2 separate regions of the Homo sapiens genome follow, and region 2 is linked to region 1. A link means that fine-mapping ties the variant in region 1 to the expression of a gene that starts in the linked region. Tissue or cell type: tibial nerve. Region 1 holds a variant in brackets; the other region holds the start of a gene. All regions are shown on one strand. Distances are from middle to middle.

What was found. PIP is the estimated chance that this variant, and not a neighbour inherited with it, causes the effect.
Region 2: RAB11FIP4 starts here. The variant in region 1 is fine-mapped to the expression of RAB11FIP4 in tibial nerve (GTEx, PIP above 0.99). The same link has a PIP of 0.9 or more in esophagus muscle.

What each region holds. Positions count from the first base shown.
Region 1 is chr17:31,411,576-31,422,904 of GRCh38, forward strand. All of the region lies in intron 1 of RAB11FIP4 (RAB11 family interacting protein 4), which reads left to right. LOC124903977 (a long non-coding RNA gene) reads right to left here and starts at 3,525. Exons shown (of 2, transcript XR_007065706.1): 1 at 3,288-3,525; 2 at 2,682-2,806. RefSeq lists enhancers at 1-843, 2,774-3,737, 4,213-5,053, 5,054-5,893. The variant C/T (reference allele first, on the strand shown) is at 4,958.
Region 2 is chr17:31,387,991-31,396,323 of GRCh38, forward strand. RAB11FIP4 (RAB11 family interacting protein 4) reads left to right here and starts at 3,685. Exons shown (of 15, transcript NM_032932.6): 1 at 3,685-4,021. The coding sequence starts at 3,863. RefSeq lists an enhancer at 2,900-3,489.

The DNA of each region.
Region 1 (11,329 bases):
TGTTACACTGGTCCTCCACCCCAGGCCTCTGAGCTACTTTCTTTTGGGAAAGAGGTTTAAATTATAAATAAGGGCCTCAATCATGGATGAGGCCTCTTGCCTCCTGCCGTGCTTGCTGGAAAAGAACTTTGCCTCTGCAAAGAGCGTCTACAAAATGAGTAGACTCAAGACCTCCCCTGTGGCCCTTGGCCCTGCCATACGGGCCCTGAGGAATTTGCTGAGCTGCCTGGGGGTGCCTCCCATGAGGACAGCTACTCAGACTGCAGGGCGTCCTTCCGAGGAGAAGGTGCAGTTGCAGCAGAGAGGAAGCGAGGGCTAGAAAGCCTGAGACATAGACAGCCCCTCTGGCCATCGTCCTTGCCTCAGTCGGGGCTCTGGGAGGGCCGCAGCCAGGCTGGGTAGGACCGAGCATCTCATGAGGGGCCGTGTGAGGTTCACTTGTTCTGTTTGGGGATGCTGAGTTCAATCACCTGGGGAGCAGCTTGGTCCTGGGAGGACCCACCAGAATTTCTCCTCCCCAAGTGAGTGCATCAGTGCTGGCAGCTGAACCCACGAGCTGCAGGCAGGGGTGTGGAGCAAGTGAACCTAGACAGTTCATCCTCTAGGGGTGACTGCGCACACCACCACCCTCCTCTCACACAGATGCCGGTTTTGCCATGGAAATGGCCCATTTAATGTCCTGTGCAAGGGAGAAAAGCTCTAGATCCCCAGAGCAGGGGTCCCACCCGTGTCCAGCAAACAGAGGGAGGAAAGGGTATTCTGATCCAGCAGTTGGTCAAGCAATGTGGAAATGGAGCCCGCTCCCCCTTCACTTTAGTCCAGGAAAGCCTCCGGGTAAAAATGCTGACTCCAGCCTAACCTGTCTCAAACTTACGGATTTCAGAAACCTTTCTACATGTAACACATTGACACTCTCTAAGAAATGCCATCCTGGTGATCTTGGGTGAAGGACTCAACCTCTCTGGGTCCCACTTGCTTCATCAGTGAAACTGGAACCTTAATCCCCATCCTGCCCTGTCCCATCACAGGGACCACGGATAGGAAGGGGCGGGGCCACCTTAATCTCTGCTGCCCACAGAGCCTGGGAGCTCCTCTTGTCCCCAGCCCCTGGCTAGACCTGGCCCAGGAAATGTACGTGAACACCAGTGAGTCCCAGGGAGCAGGCAGACACCAGGCGCAGATAGGTTTCAGGTCCTCTGCCAGGGCTACAGGCTGCACCTCCCCTGGGATCCAAGTGGGGTTTCCGTGGTGGAGAGATTGACCAGTGGGCAGTGAGGTGAGGAGCAGTACCTGCCCCATTTCACAGGCAAAAAAACTGAGGCTCAGAGAGGTCGGGGTCTGCCAGGGCCTCATGGTACGTTTGAAATTCCATTATGGGATTCCCAGAACAAGTCGCCCTTCTCACTTGCCATCTTGTGTTGTACTGACAGCAACAGTGGAATTTCTGCCTGGAGCCACTGTATTTTGCTTTGTTTCTGTAGCTAAACCTCAATTTACTGAAAGGCCATGAGGTGTCCTGGTTAACTCATTTTCTGGGGAATGGAGGGAGGACTGGCGGGAGCTTTTCAGTTTGAGTCTAGTTGAAGTGTCAGAGCTGGGGAGCTCGGCATGTTTCGGATGGGGCGGGATAGATGGGTTAGAGGAGGCAGGGTCCAGGGACCACAGCTCAGAGTGGCCCAACTCCTGCAGGCCAGCACCCCCCTTTGATGAGCAGACATTCCCATGTAACCTTAAATAATGGGTCTAAAGCCAACCAAAGCCCACAGCGAGCAGCGCCTTTCAAACTATGCTGAGAGCCAGAGATGTCAACAGAGGGCCTCACACGGAGGGCACGGAGGGAGCTGTCCTTCCATAGGCCCCCCGAGAAGAGAGTGTCTTCCCTCTTCCCCCGCCCCCATATTTAGCCTCCCCCTGCCCTCCAGCCACTGAGAACAGCTGGTGGTTCCTCAGACCCTTCGAGCACCTCTACGGCCTGGCCTTGGCTACCCTCTCCCTCCTCCCTCCCTTTTGCTCACACCAACGCCCCGCTTCTTGAATTCCCATTCCCCACACCTGCTGTGTCAGTTCTTCCACCTGCAGTCCAGCATAACCCCCTCCTCCTCCAAGGCCCTTCCACATCTCCCAAGCCCTCTGGGCTGTCTGTCTCCTCTGGGCCCCAAAACTGCAAGGATTTGGGGTAACACCTTCGAGGGGGTTACATTGTGATGGATTCTGTCTTATCTTCCCCTACAGTGCTATCAGCAGTTTTTCAAAAGAGTCATAAGAGTTTCATTGAGTTTTTTTCCCCGAAGTTTAAAAATGATCCAGTTCATATTTTAAATTCAGCCAGTTAAAAATTGCTGGAAGAAGAGGTGCAACGACTGGCTGTCCCAGCTCATGAGGTTCACGGGTGTCCGCAGCTTCCTGACCAGCGTCCAGGCATGCTCTGCCTATGAAAGCCTCATTTATCCCGAGCCTGCTCTGTGTCAGCTGCCAGGCTGTCTTGATATGCCATCCCCTCTCAGTCCTAACACATGATGAGGCAATGATGTTGCTCAGGGAGGTTGAGTCATCCACCACTGGTCACACAGCTGGGAAATGGAGGAGGTGGGATTCCAGCTCAGCAATGTCTGCCTCCAGAGGCTGGGAGCCACGCTACCCTGCCTCTGGGCGTGTGGCAGTATTAACAGTCACCTACACACTTTTATGCTATTCCCGAGGCTATTTTTATTTCACTCAAAAATAACTCCAGGACATCTGTTCCTTCCCTGGGAGCTTCCTGGGAGCCTCTCTGTCTCCCCACAGGCCAGTCAGTCTGGCTGAAGAGCTGTGGAAACATTTGCAAAAGGAACGGACAGATGGGCGGATGCCTGCAGAGGCCAGTCCACTTCAGAGACCACCCAGGCTTCTGTCACTTTCGCTCCTATTCAGACCCCAAACAAAGCCCTTGTGGGTGGCCGGAGGGATTCTGTCAGCCCAGACTCAGGCTGTGAATGAGGGGCCACCTGATGACACTCAGATGGATGGAGGTGTTGGCGGTCCCATAAAGGAAGATGTCTCCAGCTGTGGCGGCTGGGACAGCGCTTCCCAGGAGGCGGTGGCCTGGGTACCATGTCACTGGGCCATGGTGCTGGCCAGCCCTCTGGATGTCTAGCCACCCTGGCCAGAGGCACTCCAAAGCCGCACAGGCCCTCTCCACCTCCCCTCCCATCACCACCTTTTATCCCAGTGGGTCCCTGAGGCGGGGTCCTTCATTGGGCAGGGGCCCTCCAGCTGTGAGAACCAGGAAGCAATGCAAAATAACTTACATGCTGAGGCAAGTGTATTCTTCCTTATAACACAAGGGTCCAAGGTAGGGCAGCTCCAGGGCTGGTTCCTCAGGGGCTCAGAGGCACCAGCTAGGACCCAATCCCCTTCCATTGAGCTTCCCAGCGTTGACCCAAGAGGGCATCCCTTCTCCAGCAGGGGAAGCAGGGAGGGGACAGCTTCCTGTTCATGGGCCCCACCCTCCAGAGACAGCCTCTCCCAGAGCCCCCTGCAGATGTCTTCTCATGGCTTATTGGCCAGAGATGTAGAACATGCCTTTGCCTGAACCAATCACTGGCAAGGGGGAAGAGCCCCCCGGAACTGGCTTGGTCCAGTCAGAACTCATGCTCCAGGTTGAGTGGCCCCAGGCACCTGGTCAGACAGGAGGTGGGCACCTCAGGCCCAGGGGGCGCTCTACGTGGACAAAGAGGAGGGGAGGGGCAGGATAGTGGTGACTGACGAATCTGCCTCCGTTCTTGTCATTATTTCTTGACTTTATAGAAGAGGGGAAGTAAAAGGCTCGGAAGAGAGGTTGAGTAATTCCCCAGGGCCACACCCACTCCAAGGTCCCCAAGCCATTTACTTGTTCCGTGGTGAAGCTCCAGTAAATGGAGGCATTTTTCTCCCAGTCCTCTGACCCCGTCTGCTTCTCCACTCTGGTTTTCTTCTCTTCCTCCCCCCAATCCCCATGCCCACCCCAAACATGCCTGAAAGCATTACGATCATAGAGACTTCAGAGCTGGAAGAGACATTCAATATTAATGTTATCCAGTGCTGTCATTGTCCAGATGGGGAAACTGAGGCCGAGAGAGGGGAAGGAGCTCAGCGAGACCACTCAGTAAAGCAGTCTGTGGTGGAGCTGGGACTGGATGGAGGGCCCAGGAAGCACAGCATCCCTGAGATTCTCAGAGGGTCTCAGGGACCACCCTACTTTCTCACCTCAGCCCCCCTGCGGACGGTCTCCGCAGCCTCCCAGCTGGCTGGTGGCCCCTCTGCCTGTCCCTTCCCGGGGGAAGGCTCACCCTCAGGCCCCCTTTATGCATCTTTGCACCTGGCACATCCATGGCACTCTGCAGCCTCTGATGTCCTTGACTCATAGTCTGATCTGATCGTCACAGCGGTCCTGTGAGCTGGTCGGAAGTGCATTATAGATACAGAAACTGAGGCCCAGAGAGGCAACAGGGCTTGCCCGAGGTCACGCAGTGGTACCTTATCGAAGCCCAGGCAGAGCCCGCTCTCTCGGCATGCGACCTGTGCAGTCACTCAGGGATTAGTGCTCTGGGGTTGCCTTCTTGAAATTCGTGGTAATGTTCCCCTTTGCCCTGGGCGCCACTAATTGCGGAGCTGGTCCTGGGCCCGGGGCTCCTGACTCCTCCAGGATGCTTTCCACAACCACATACCCCCTCTACCAGTGGCCTACCCAGGGTAAGTCTGACTGATTCCGTGGGACAGCCCTTCACATGGAGGGGAGCGGGCTTAGGGAGTGGGAGCAAGACAGTGGGATGTTTTGGCCTGGGCTCAGGGTGCAGGAACTGGAAGGACCCACTTTGGAAATGCCTCCCTCATCCCTTGTCTCAGGCCGGTGTTGCTGAAGTTCTTGCCTGGCTCCCTTCCCATCCTGGCCTCAGAATTAATGGAGAGGGCCAGTGGCGGCCTGTGCCCTTTGTCCCAC[C/T]GGCCGGCCTGGGGGTGGCGGCTCCAGAATACAGGGTCCTATTGTGTGCCCTGATGTCAGGCAGCTGGACTGCTGGGAGTGAGGATAAACAAGCAGCTGGAGCATCTCGCCTGAAGCCCCAGGAGAGGGCCAGAGCCCCTGCAGCAGCAGGAGAAGGGGCCAGTCTGAAGAGGGACAGAGCTAGGGGCAGTTGGATTCCAACCCTGCCTGCTGTGCGGTGAGGCCAGCACAGCAACAGGGTCCACTGCTGTAAGAGGGGAATGACTGGCGGTTTGGCTACTTCACAGGGCTGCTGGGAGTGATGCACTTGAGTGCTTCGAAGGCTGCCTGACACCAGCCAGCTCTGCCGCTGTCAGCACTTGCCCCTGTGCTTCCTATCGCCCATATTCAGGATAAAGCACATACAGGCCCTTTGCCTGGCTCGTAAGCCCTTCTCTTTCAGGCCTGTTCCCTCTCTCTTTGGCCCCATCTCTTGATGACGCCCCCTCCCCATATTCCTTCCATCCACCCCAGACCCCCTGCGTTTGCCAGCATTGCCCCCTCTCCCTCTCCTGTTCCCTCTTGCTGCCCTTCACGTCCTTCCCCACTGTCCCCCTCACCTGGCCAGCTCCTAGCAGGAAACCCTGCAACTGGTCCTGGGATTTACGATGCCTCCGGTACCCCAGTGTCCTCACAGGTGTCTCCTGACTGTAAGGCCTCCAGAGTGGCCACCCCTGAGCAAGGATCTGGCCCCAGCACCTGCCTCACCTCCTCCAGAGGGTCCCTTCCCCAGAAGCACTGCCAGGGAAATCTAGGCTCCACGTGGGTTCAAAAGGCACTTCCCGGCCTGCTGCAGGGAGTCTCCAGGTGCCCAGACCTGCCACTGTCTTTGTAGGCCCCTCTCACCCCACAGGCACTGTCCTTTCCCCTCTTTTCCCATCTGTCTTCTATTGTGGCTGCTAAAACAGCATAAAAATGCTGGGGAGTTTCAACTTCACCCTACTCCAAGCCAAGCCCTGAAACCCCTTTTGTGGATATAGACGATGTCAGGTGCCCAGCCAAGCCCAGGTTAGTGCCTGGGGTAGCAGGAATTGCCACTCCGATGCCCATGGGGGCCAGGAAGGAATGCAGCCTAGGTGGGGCTGCGGTGGGGAACTACTTGAGATTTGGGGGTTCCCATAGACAGCTGGGGAGCAGAATACATTCCCTTTCTAAAGAGTGTGCTTGAATTCAGCTGTCGCTCATTGTTGCTGTGGGGGAATATGGGACCTGTATTGCCAGATCTGATTTTTCAAGAAAAGCCAGGGGCTGGGCATGGGGGCTATGCCTGTAATCCCAACACTTTGGGAAGTCAAGGCAGGAGGATCACTTGAGGCCAGGAGTTCAAGACCAACCTGGGCAACATAATGAGACCCCATCTCTACAAAAAATTAGCCAGGTGTAGTGGTGTATGCCTGTACTCCCAGCTACTTGGGAGGCTGAGTTGGGAGGATCCCTTCAACCTGGGAGGTCGAGGCTGCTGTGAGCTATGATCATGCCACTGCACTCCAGCCTGGGTGACAGTGAGACCCTGTCTATAACAAAAATAAAAATAGGCTAGGCGTAGTGGCTCATGCCTGTAATCCCAGCACTTTGGGAGGACAAGGCGGGCGGATCACCTGAGGTCAGGAGTTCGAGACCAGCCTGGCCAACATGGTGAAACCTCGTCTCTACTAAAAATACAAAAATTAGCTGGGTGTGGTGGCAGGCACCTGTAATCCCAGCTACTCAGGAGGCTGAGGCAGCAAAATCGCTTGAACCCGGGAGGCGGAGGTTGCAGTGAGCCGAGATCGCACCATTGCATTCCAGCCTGGGAGACAAGAGTGAGACTTCGTCTCAAAAAAATAAAATAAAATAAATAAAAATAAAAATTTAAAGTCAGATATCCAACTTTGTATGTGCAGTTCCCTTGATTTTTTTTTTTTTTTTTTGAGACAGGGTCTCACTGTGTCACTCAGGCTGGAGTGCAGTGGCACAATCACAGTTCACTGCAGCCTTGACTTCCCGGGCTCAGGTGATTCTCCCGCCTCAGCCTCCGAAGTAGCTGGGACTACAGGCGTGCACCACCACACCTGGCTAATTTTGTTCATTTTTTGCAGAGACAGGGTTTTGCCATGTTGCCCAGGCTGGTCTGGAACTCCTGAGCTCAAGCGATCCTCCTGCCTTGACCCACTCCCAAAGTGCTGGGGTTACAGCTGTGAGCTACCGTGCCCAGCCAGTTCCCTTGATTTTTAAAGAAAAATTTTAAAAAATTGTTTTTACTTTACATACAGTAAAATTCGCTTTTTGGGGGTGGGGGAAGAAGTGTCACTATTTACATAGACTCCTGTGACTCCCACTGCCATCAGGGACAGAACGGCTCATCCCCCAAATTCTCTCCGGCTGCTCCTTTGTCTTCAGTCCCTCCTCCTCGCTCTTGGCACCCACTGATCTGGCTTTGTCACTATGGTTTTGCCTTTTGCACGTAAATGGAATCATACAGTTTGTAACCTTTGGGAGTGGTTTCTTTCCCGTAGCATAATCATTTGTTCTTTTTGGTTAGGGAACACTTGCTTATCCATTCACTTGTTGAGAGACACTGGGGATGTTTCTAGGTTTGGGTGATTATGTGTAATGCTGCTGTGGACATTTTTGTGCAGTTTTGTGTGGGTGTGTGTGAATGTAAGTTTTCATTTCTCTAAGATAAGGAAGGATAAGGAAGTTCCCTTATATTTCTACTTTGTTGAGAGTTTTTTTGTTTTTTTTTTTTGGTATCATGAATGGATGTTAAATTTTGCCACTTGATTTCTCTGCATCTTTTGATAGGTTTTTCTTCTTTGGTCATGTTTAGATTACATCCATTAGTTTTCAAATGTTGGGCCAGCTTTGCTGAATAAACCCCATTCGGCTGCTTGTCTTGTTATATTTTTCATATATATCTCCTGGATTCGATTTGCTAATATTTTGCAGAGGCTCATTGCATCTGTGTTCATGAGGGATATTGGTTTGTAGTTTTCTTTTTTCTTTTTTTTTTTTTTTGAGACTGAGTCTCACTCTGTCGCCCAGGCTAGAGTGCAGTGGGGCGATCTCGGCTCATTGCAAGCTCCGCCTCCCGGGTTCACGCCATTCTCCTGCCTCAGCCTCCCGAGTAGCTGGGACTACAGGCGCCCACCACCATGCCCGGCTAATTTTTTGTATTTTTAGTAGAGACGGGGTTTCACTGTGTTAGCCAGGATGGTCTCGATCTCCTGATCTCATGATCCGCCCACCTCAGCCTCCCAAAGTGCTGGGATTACAGGCATGAGCCACTGCGCCCAGCAGGTTTGTAGTTTTCTTATATTGCTTTTGTTTGGTTTGGGTAACAGGGTATTATTGCTGGCCCCATAAAACGAGTTGGGAAGTGGCTCTTCTATTCTCTGGAAGAGGTAGTGTAGAATTTATGTATATTTTCCTTAAATACTTAGTGAAATTATCTGGTCCTGAGGTTTTCCTTTTTGGAAGGATATAAATTGGGAAATTAATTTCTTTAATCACTCAAGGACTGTTCAGATTATCTATTTCTTCTTGCATGAGTTTTGGTAGTTTGTGTTTTTCAAAGAATTGGTCCATTAGCTCATCTAAGTTGTAGAAATTATGTGTGTAGAAGTGTTTCTAGTGTTCCCTTATTAGCCTTTTAAAGGATGTAAGACTGTAATGATATCTCTGTTTTCTTTTTTTTCGAGACAAGGTCACACTCTGTCACCCAGGCTAGAGTGCAGTGGTGTAATCAAGGCTCACTGCAGCCTTGACCTCCCTGGCTCAAGCGATCCTCCCACCTCACCCAACCCCGGTAGCTGGGACCAGAGGCATGTGCCACCATGCTTGGCTAATTTTTTTAATCTTTTGTAGAGATGGGGTCTTGCTATGTTGCCCAGGCTGATCTTGAATGCCTGGTCTCAAGCGATCCTCCCACCTTGGCCTCCCAAAGTGCTGGGATGACAGGTGTGAGCCACTGTGCTCAGCCTCATTTTTTATATTGGTGATTTGTATTCTCTCTCTCTTTCTCTCTGTCATTCTGGTTAGAGATGCATCAGTTTTGTTAATCTTTTCAAAAAAAAAACCAGATTTGGGTTTTGTTGATTTTTCTCTACCAGTCTCATTTTTAATTTTATTAATTTCTGCTCTTATCTTTATTATTTCTTTCCTCCCTTTTGCTTTGGGCTTGAATTTTATGGTATTGTATTTTCATTTTCATTTAGTTTAAATTATTTTTATTTTCTCTTGAGACTTTGGGGCTGGGTGCGGTGGCTCATGCCTGTAATCTCAGCACTTTGGGAGGCCGAAGGGGGTGGATCACCTGAGGTCGAGAGTTCAAGCCCAGCCTGACCCATATGAAGAAACCCCATCTCTACTAAAAAATACAAAATTAGCCAGGCATGGTGGTGCATGCCTGTAATCCCAGCTACTCGGGAGGTTGAGGCAGGAGAATTGCTTGAACCCGGGAGGCAGAGGTTGCAGTGAGCCGAGATCACGCCATTGCACTCCAGCCTAGGCAACAAGAGCAAAACTCCATCTCAAACAAACAAACAAACAAAAAGATACTTCATCTTTGACTCATGAATTATTTAGACACATACTGCCTAATTCCCAAGTATTTGAGGATTTTTCAGATGCCTTTCTGTTTTTGATTTTTTTGCTTGTTTTAAAATTTCTTTTCTTTTCTTTTTTTTTGAGACAGTCTCGCTCTGTTGCCCAGGCTGAAGTGCAGTGTGTGATCTCAGCTCACCGAAATCTCCATCTCCCAGGTTCAAGTAATTCTCGTGCTTCAGCCTCTCAAGTAGCTGGGATTATAGGCACAGGACACCATGCCCAGCTAATTTTTGTATTGTTAGTAGAGATGGGGTTTCACCATGTTGCCCAGGCTGGTCTTGAACTCCTGACCTCAAGTGATCCACCTGCCTCAGCCTCCAAAAGCTCTGGGATTACAAACGTGAGCCACTGAGCCCTGAGACTGATTTTTAGTTTAATTATATTATAGTCACAGGACTTTTTTTTTTTTTTTTTTGAGACAGAGTTTTGCTCTTGTTGCCCAGGCTGGAGTGCAATAGCGCAATCTCGGCTCACTGCAAACTTCGCCTCCTGGGTTCAAGTGATTCTCTTGCCTCAGCCTCCCTAGTAAGCTGGGATTACAGGTGCCCACCACCACGCCCAGCTAATTTTTTGTATTTTTAGTAGGGATGGGGTTTCACTATGTTGGCCGGGCTGGTCTCAAACTCCTGACCTCAGGTGATCCACCTGCCTCAGCCCCTCCCAAAGTGCCAGGATTATAGATGTGAGCCACCACGCCCGGCAAGACATACATTTATAATTTCAGTTTTTAAAAATTTGTTGCCAGACTCTGTGGCTCATGCCTGTAATCCCAGCACTTTGGGAGGCTAAGGCAGGAGGATCTCTTGAGGCCAGGAGTTCGAGACCAGCCTGGGCAACATAGTGAGACCCCCCGTCTCTACAAGAAAATTAGCTGGGCGTGTTGACATATCCCTGTAGTCCCAGCTACTCGGGAGGCTGAGGTGGGAGTATTGCTTGAGTCTGGGAGGTGGAGGCTGCAGTGAGCTATGATCACACCGCTGCACTCCAGCCAAGGTGACAGAGTAAGATCCTGCCTCCCCACCACACACAAAAAAAGTATTATAGTTTGTTTAATCGTCCAAGATATGATCTACATGATCTACCTTGGTGACAGTTCCATGTTTACATGAAGAGAACGTGTATTCTGCTATTCTTGGGTGGTGTGTTCGATAAACATCAATTAGGTTAAGCTGGTTAGTGGTGGTATTCAGACCTTTTAGATCCCTTGTTGATTTTTCATCTAACTAGCTCTACTGTTAAAAATTAGATTTTCTATCTAACTGGTTATATTCTCTAGAGGAGTGTTGAAGTCTCCAACTATGATTGTCAATTTGTCTATTTCTCCTTTCAATTTTATTAGTTTGGCTTCATGTATTTTGAAGCTCTGTTTTTAGGGACATATGCATTTAGGATTGTTATGTATCTTCTTGGTGAGTTGACCCTTTAATATAATGTTTGTCTGAATCCTTGGTAATTTTCCTTGTTTGGATTAGGCAATTTCTGTTGTTCTATCACTGTTTGTACTGTGATTTCCGTTCTGCTATTGATCCAATCCAATGAACTTTTATTTCATATATTGTATTTTTTAGTTCTAAAATTTCCATTTGGTTCCTTTTTTCTAGCATCTATTTTTCTGCAAGAATTTCGAAATTTCCATTTATTTCGGATTGTTCACCTTTACTGAACCATGGAGCATGGTTATAATAACTTTTTTAAAGTCTTTGTCTAATAATGGCAACATCTGGGTCATCTTAGCATTGGTATCTA
Region 2 (8,333 bases), 25 kb before region 1:
GGGGCATTTTTCAGCCTACCATGCCATATTTGTCCATTCCTTAATTTATTCCTACACAGACCCTAACTATGTGTGTATGGGCATTATTTAGGAGCTACAGAAATCAGGAGAGAAATAGACACAGTCCCTGCTCCCAGGGACCTCATGGTCACTCCTGTGACCTTTCATACAGTTTCCCAGATAATCCGGTGATAGACAATAGGAGTAAGATGGTAAGGATAGTCACAAGGACAATAGCTGTCACTAACCAGCAGCACTGTTCTGACACTTACAATGTATGTATTAACTTACTGACTCTCACCACAGCCTTATCCATACCTGTAAGTGGGCTGCAGTCTGTACTTTTCACTTCTCTGCAGGAGCACATGGGAGAGGTGGTCAAGGTGGGCAAGGAGTGGGGTGGTCATGAAAGGCTTCCGGTAGGAAGTGCCACTTCCACAACACAAGGACAGGAATTAGAGAAAGTGGAATTGGGTGGGGGTAGGATTGAGACCTCCCACCCACTAAGCAAAGGGAGGCAGGAGGGAGCCTGGATGCTCCCAGACTAGGGTTAAGGAGAGGCAGGAGAGTATGAAGACACTGCACAATGCCAGCTCAGGCAATGGTGGCCATTGAGTTTTCAGCAGGGGAGGGACCTGATCAAACTTGTTTCTTCCTAGAGAAGGGGCCGGAGTCCCAACTGTCCCTTCCATGTATATTTCCCAGTATATTTCCAGCCTGCCCAGGCTGCTGCAGCTGTTGGAAATCCCCTGGAGAATCAGAGGTCACCTGGAGGAAGCGGAGGACAGAAAGGAGGCTCCGCGCCTTCCCGCCCTATCCATGGGGACCTCTTGCTTTCCTGGAGCAACCCCCTTCACCCTGCAGCCGGCCCTGACATGGGTATTCTCTTGCTGCTTCTGCTCGGGGCTGCACTCTGAGCTCTTGGATCAGGGTTTTGGGAGCCCTAGTGGTCCCAGGTCCACTTCCAAGGACCCAAGGACTCCATAAATTGCACCATCTCTGAGGGACCTTTGGGTAGGCACTCAGCCATTTCTGCAGGCCCTCTTGGGCTCCTAGAGCCTGGCACCTCAGTGTAGATCACACTGGGCCATGACTGCCCCCATCAAGTTCAGCAAGTGGCTGCACCCCTTTCACTGTCTCCCTAGCATACCCAACACAACGTAGGTGCTCAACAAAAACGTGACAACCCCAGAAAGAATGCCTGTGACGTGCTTTGCTGGCCCCAGCAGCACAGCGGTGAGCAAGAGACCCAGTGCCACTGGTGGGGGAGGCAGGTGTCCTTCAAACCATCGCCCACCAGAGACAAAACTGCAGAGACCTGGGCAAGGAGAGTCCGGTCAGGGAAAGCTCTCCTGGGGGATTTTTGAATTTGTGATGATCCTGTCTTTGACAAGAACTGGCTAATCTGGTTGCGGGATTCTGTCTTGGTTCACTTGGGATTTGTTCATGCTCAGGTCTGAGGTCCCCGCCTCTGCCAGCTGAAGTGGGTGAGTCTTCCAGCTCCCCTGTCCCCAGTTAGGGGGCATTCAATGCCAGGCTGAGCGCGGAGAGCCATTTCTGCAGCCCCCACCAGGGGGCAGCCCCAGCTCCTGGCCATCTCCTTTCTGTGCTGAGCCCCTTGGGTGAGAGAAAATGGCACGAGCTGACCTTGGACGAACTAATATCGGGGTCCCAGGGGCAGGCAGCAGCCCCCAGCTTCCACTCCCTACCTCCTTGCCAGGGGGCTGGCTGGATCTCCAGCAGCCAGTCTCTCCCAGCCAGCTGCTTGTCCTTATTCTCCACTTCCACCTCCATTTTGCAGGGTAGGTCGGGGGAAAGCAGCATTGCTTAGATTCGCTCTCATCTTCAGTTGCCCTAAAAGGAAGGTACTATTATCCTCACGGTACAGGCGAGGAAACCGGCTAAAATATGCTAGTATCCTGCTGAGCGGCATCCAGCTAGCAGAGACGCTCCTACTCAGCCGAATACCCCTACTCCACTCCCACGGCCTCCCCTTTCCCGCTTTCTCACATTTCGGACTCCTCAATCCTCAGAACCACAGGTCTCTCTTCCCAAGAGGTGTTGCCTTTCGTGGCTCTCAGACGAACTGAAGGGTCAAAGGAGAGTAGCTAAAAGCCAGGTTCATCCCAGGAGCCGGGGCTGGAAAGAAGAGGTCCCCGCCCACTGTCAGAAGGCAAATGGCAGTCCCTGCGCAGGATATATTCAGGGTTGAGCAGGAAGACCACAGAGGTACAAACCGAGGCCCAGCTAGGGGAGGCCATGCAGTTCACCCCGTACTCCCTGTCTGCGCCACTACGTTGCTCCCGGCTCCTCACATAATGGGCGGGCCCATCCCCTCTGGGTGGGGCTTCCTCTGGGCCCACTCTTGCCTGGAGATCAGGGACTTGAAGGTAATTAAGACATATCTTGCCCTGGAGGGCTTCCCAGCATGGTAGGGGAAATGGGCATCCCACTAGAGAATTAAGAATTAACTGGGCACCTGGAAGAAGGGCTTAGAACTCAGAATAGAAGATAAGATGGCGTGCCATCAGAGAAGCCTTCCCGGAGGAGGAAACCTCTGTGCTGAGCATGACAGCATAGGTGGGAGTAGACTCAGCCAAGGCCTTTTTTTGGGTTGGGGCCAGTCGTTGCCACAAAGACCTGATGTGCCGAGCAAGAAGGTGGAGAGAAGAGCCCGGCCGGGTCCTGCAGGGCCCCGAGGCTGGGCTGGGAAGTTAGCACAAGCTGGGGTGGAGGCTCCGCTGAGCACTAATGGGAGGAGGCCAGGGTCCTGACCTAGAGCCTGCGGCCAGCGGGACAGAGATTCTGTCCTGGATTCTCTGAGCTTGGGGCATGCGGGCTGCCAGGGAGGTGTGATGGTGGGAACCCGGCGAAAGGGAGGAAGCCTCTTCCAGGCGTGGAGCAGCCTTGGGCCCTGAACAGGCAGGCCTCTGGAAGCGCCTCGCTTTTCCTCCCTCCGGCCTCATCCTGGTTTTCTCCTCATCTCCCCGTCGCAGGGTCCCGGGTCCAGGCTGGGGTTCAGTTGCCTGCTCCTCCTCTCTGTGCCCTCCCCCGCCCGATGGCCCCACAAGTGCTGTCTTGCAGGAGAGCGCCGGGAGACCGCAGGGCGGAGGTGAAGAACGGAGTCCAGAGCCCTCCAGAGATGGCAGCGAATCCCGGCCCTGCCTCTTGCCAGCTGTGTGGCCTAGAGTGAGTCCGACCTCTCTGGGCCTCAGCTTCCTCCGGGATGAATGCAGTCACGGAACGCGCCAATGCAGGAGGCCCCCAGGACATCCTGAGCGCTCGGGAGACGCCAGGCGCGGCAGCGGGCACGGATAGCGGAAAGGGGCGCGACCCCGCGGAATCCTCCGGCAGGGCAGGGCCTTTGGGTGGCTCCGGGTGTCCAGAGGAAGGGGTGGGCTCGGGGACGCGGAGGGAAACTGGGGACGCGGAGGGAAACTGAGGTCGCGGAGGACGCGGCCGTTGGCAGCTCGCTGCGCCTGCCGGCCCCGCGTGGGCCGCCCCACTCGGGAGGACGCGGGCTCCTTTTGTCTGCAGCGTCCCCGCCGCCGCCGCCCCCGCCGCCTCCCCCTCTCCCTCCCATTTTCGCCGCGGCCCCCGCCCCTCCCCTCCCCGCCCCCTATTGCCCCTCCTCCTTCCCCTCCCCACTCTTCTCCTTCCCTCCCCTCCCCTCCCTTCCCCTCCGGAGCGGCTGGGGCTGCGGCGCCGCTGCTGACACGGATCGGCCGCGGCCGCCACCGGGCGGAGGCTGCGCGGCGCAGACCCAGACGGGCGGCCCCGGAGGGCGCGCGGCGATGGCGGCGGCGGGCAGGCGGCGGGCGCGGCGGGCGAGGGGTCCGGGCTGAGCTGCGGGCCGGCCCGGATGGCGGGCGGCGCGGGCTGGTCGGGCGCCCCCGCGGCTCTGCTGCGCTCCGTGCGCCGCCTGCGCGAGGTGTTCGAGGTGTGCGGCCGCGACCCCGACGGCTTCCTGCGCGTGGAGCGCGTCGCGGCGCTCGGACTGCGCTTCGGCCAGGGCGAGGAGGTAAGCTGGCCCGACCCCAGTCCCGGCCCGGGGACCCCAGCCCAGCCCCGCCGCCCCTCCCCCAGCTCCCCCGCCGGGTCACCCGCGTGGCCCGAGGCGGTGGCCTCCCTCCCAATCCCCTCCCTCCGCCGGAGCCCAGGACCTCGGCCCCCCCCGGGTATCCCTGGCCCAGCCGGGCCCTCGCTTTCCGCCCCCCGGCGCCCGTGCCCCGAGCGTCACGCGTCACGCCTAGGGTGGCTTCTGCGCCCACCTTCCTTCCTCGGCCATGCAGGTCCTTCTGAGCGGTCTGCACATCCACCCTTGTCTGGGGGAGAGAGCTGCCAGAATCCGGCCCTAGGCTCCCCACCCCACCCGGCGCTGCGGAGACCAAGATGCAAGGGTCTGTGTACGTCCTGCTGGGCCGGGCCAGGGGGTGAAAGGGACCGGTAGGGGTGCTCTGCAGCCTTGGCTCCTCGGCTGCACACACCCTGCCCAGACACGGAAGGAGGTGTCTGCTGGGGCCACCGTGTACTCCCGGGCCAGTGTCGGGTGACCTCTCATTCAGGCTCTGCTGGGCAGCCAGGCTGGCAGCTGGCTGTGTTGGTTGCAGCAGGCCAGGCAAAGCCAGGCTCGGGGAGTGGTGGCTGAGCAGAGGGCTTTCATGTGGCGGGGCCGCATCTATTTGGGGAAAGCAGGACTTACGTAGATTGTTAACAGGGCTGGAAGCGGAGGGTCGGTGCCGCCAGTAGGGTGGACGGAGTCATATCACTAAACGCACACTACACCAGTGTCCTCTGGTGCCACCGGCATGGGGACTGGGGACTGTGTCTCAAGGGGAGGACAAGACACCCACCTGGCTGAAATGGTCAGGGGTTTCCCCTGGAGCCAAAAGCCCTGAGAAGTGGGTTTCCAAGGCCATCTAAGGCCTCAGGCCCTGCATGGGGGGCCTGGGGCCATGGGCCTCAAATGGGCACTGGCTGGCATTGTGTTCCCAGAACAGGTCGGACCAGGCATTTCAGAACATGGGAGAAGCTGGGTGATGGCCAGGTTGGGCCCGTGCCTCTGCGTCACCAGAGAGTGGGAGGCGATTGAGAATCATCTCTCCACCCGCACCTGGGCATGGGCCGGGACTTGTGAGTCGCTGAGAGCTGTGGGCAGAAGAGAGTGAGGCAGCTTCAGGGCTTGAGAACTCAGGTACCCACCACAGGAAAGACCACTGCAGTGCCTGTGAGAGCCCAGACTGCCCTCTGCGGGGCTTTGCTGAGGGACACTGCCTGCTGCCACCATGACCCTTCTTCCCCAAAGGCCAGCCAAGCCCTTCCGTTTTTCCAGTGGCTCCCATCTGGGGCAGGCTGAGCAGACTCCTGGCATGGGGATAGTCGCGCTCCTTCCTCTCAGAACACAGACTGCAGGTCGGGTAAAGAAGCTACCAGCTCTGGCTGAAACCTGGAGTCCCCGAACTCAGAGCCTCAGTAGTGGGAAGGGCCTCCCAACAACCTCTGGCAGGGGCCACCGGCCTCAGCCACGTGCCCAGCAAGCCTCACCCACTTCTCCCCCAGCTGGACAGTTCCTGCCATTAGAACCTTCTCCCTCATACACTCTAGAGACAGACCTGCTTGTCACTTAGTCATCACCGTTCTGCACGGGGACTCACATAGGTCTCTCTTCTTTGGGGGAGCCTTTAAATATTTGAAAATAGCACTCCTGCCCCTTCTCTCCTTCCCAGCTCCATACTCCCATTTTCCCTTCTCCAGGCCAAATACCCCAGTTCCTGAAGCCCTAGGCCATTTCCATGTGACCCAGTAGCCAGACCTCTGGCTTCTGGCCTTGGAGCTGCCATCGACTAATTCTGTGATTCAGTTTTCCTAGCAATAACATGAAAGGGCTGGACAAGCAGACCGCCCCCCGCCGCCCCCACCAGGACTATATTAGCCCCAAGACCTCACACATATGCACACAGCTTAGGGTGGGGCTGCCTCTGAATGGGGCACTGCACTCTGCTTATATTAAGTTTCTGGCCACCGAAACCTCCAGGGATCTGTTTTAGAAACCTCTGCCAAGCCAGGGATTCTCCACCCTTCGGGGAGGGTCAGTGATTTTTTTCTTTTAAAAGCATACTCTGAGATTACTACAGAAGCGGTGGATATGCATTGCAGAAAACTGGAAATAGGGACAAGCAAAATAAAAAGTATTGTGTCCTATCTCTCAGGCAGCGCCTCAATGACACTTCTGTCAGACCTTTCCAGAGCTGTTTCCATGCTTATATGTCAATTTTCTCCAGAAAATGAGATCATACTGTGCATACTGTTTTGTAACCTGATTTTTTTTGCCGGTAAATGATCATGACTTTTCTGCTTCAATAAATTTTCATCTGGTTTAATATGCAGACCTTTTTCAGATTTCCCTATTTGACCCCAAAATGTCCATTTTTGCTGTTTCCTCTCCAGGACTGTGCAGTGTATGTGGTTGTTGTCACCTTTTAGTCTCTCTTACTGTACACAATTCCTTTTTCTTTTCTTTTCTTTTCTTTTTTCTTTTAACAATCCTGGCTTGTGGAAGCATTCGGGCCTGTTGTCTGTCAGTAATTTCTGGAATCTAAGCCTGTTTCTTGGCCCTTATTCCCATTTAATTTCGTCTTGTTCATTTCATCACATTGTATCTGTCAAGAAAGAGAATCTAGCATCCTACCTCTATCACTCTCAGCTGTGCTGCTGCCTGCGGGCTGGAGAAGCAGTGCTTGGTGTGTCTGAATCCACAAGGCTGGTTAAACATTGCAGGGCAGGACCATGGACAGGGCCCCGAGGCACTTGTAGGGGTGGTTTTCGGCTTATGCTGTATTGACCGAGACCCGTGGAAATATATTTTGCATCTCTACTCACTACCCATCTTATCCCCTGATGCATTAAAAAATCGGAGTGTTGTTTTCCAGCGGTGGGGTGGCGGGGGGCGGGGGGGGGGGGCTCCCTTACGAAATGCAGTGTACTCTGACTGTTTCTATTTTATTTGTTTTAAAATCAGGCAGTGACATTGATTTCCCAGCCACTTGTGCTCTGGGATGGATAATGATCATTCATTAGATATGTAGTTCAGTGAACTTAGAGCTGATTGTCCACAGTTTACCACCTACCCCCAGAATACCAGGGATACCAGGATCAAATGCTTTGCAAAAACCAAAATATACTAGGTCATAAAGTATGAAATAAATATCCATGAGGCCATAATGAAATATATATATGTATAAATTATTGAACAGATGATAATAAATAAATAGGAAAATCTCTCGTATAGAAGAAATCTGAATAACGTATGTTGATAATTGCCCCATTGAGGAAGTGAAGCATAACGTCCCACCGTGTAAGCATGAGATGTGCGTAGTGGCTTCCTTATAAAGGGTAGAGTTTGGAAAGTGGGGGGAACAGCAACTGTATAGTGGAGAAACCCAACAAACACTGTCTCAGAAGGTGATCAAGGACAACATCGATAGTGACAGATTGTGATGATGGCATACACCCTTGGTGTGATGTGGTGAGAATAGAACTTTTCCTCTGTGGTCTTCCTCCCAAACCAGTAATCCCAGTCTAGTCCTGAGAAAAATGCCAGACAAATCCCATCCGAGAGGCATTCTACAAAATGCCTGATTAGGACCTCTCAAAATTGTCAAGGTCATCCAAAACAAGGAAATTTTGAGACACTGTCAGAGCCAAGTGGAGACTAAGGAGGCAGCTGACTAAATGCAGTGTGGTGTCCTGGATGGGACCCTAGAATCAAGAAGAGGACATTAGGTAAAAACTAAGGAAGTCAGGATCAAGTATGAATGTTACTTAATAATGTTATTTATGGATTAGGTTAGTCCCTGATAGTTCCCTACTTTGTTGACCTAGGTATCACAGCAGAAAAGAGGAGACAATGGGCCGGGCGTGGTGGCTCATGCCGGTAATCCTAACACTTTGGGAGGCTGAGGTGGGAGGATCACTGGAGCTCAGGAGTTCCACACCAGCCTGGGTAACATGGTGAGACCCCCCATCTCTACAAAAAATACAAAAATTAGCCCGGTGTAGTGGCGTGCACCTGTAATCCCAGCTAGTTGGGAGACTGAGGCAGGAGAATCGCTTCAACCTGGGAGGCGGAGGTTGCAGTGAGCTGAGATTACATCGCTGCACTCTAGCCTGGGTGACAGAGTGAGACCCTGCCACAAAAAAAAAAAAAAGAAAAGAAAAGAAAAGAAAAGAAAGAAATGCAGATTTTTGAGGGATGGGGGCACACCACTGCCCTGATCCTGAAAGTCTACAATGCCAGGGAGCAGGACTCTGATAAGTATGTAACATGATGGCTC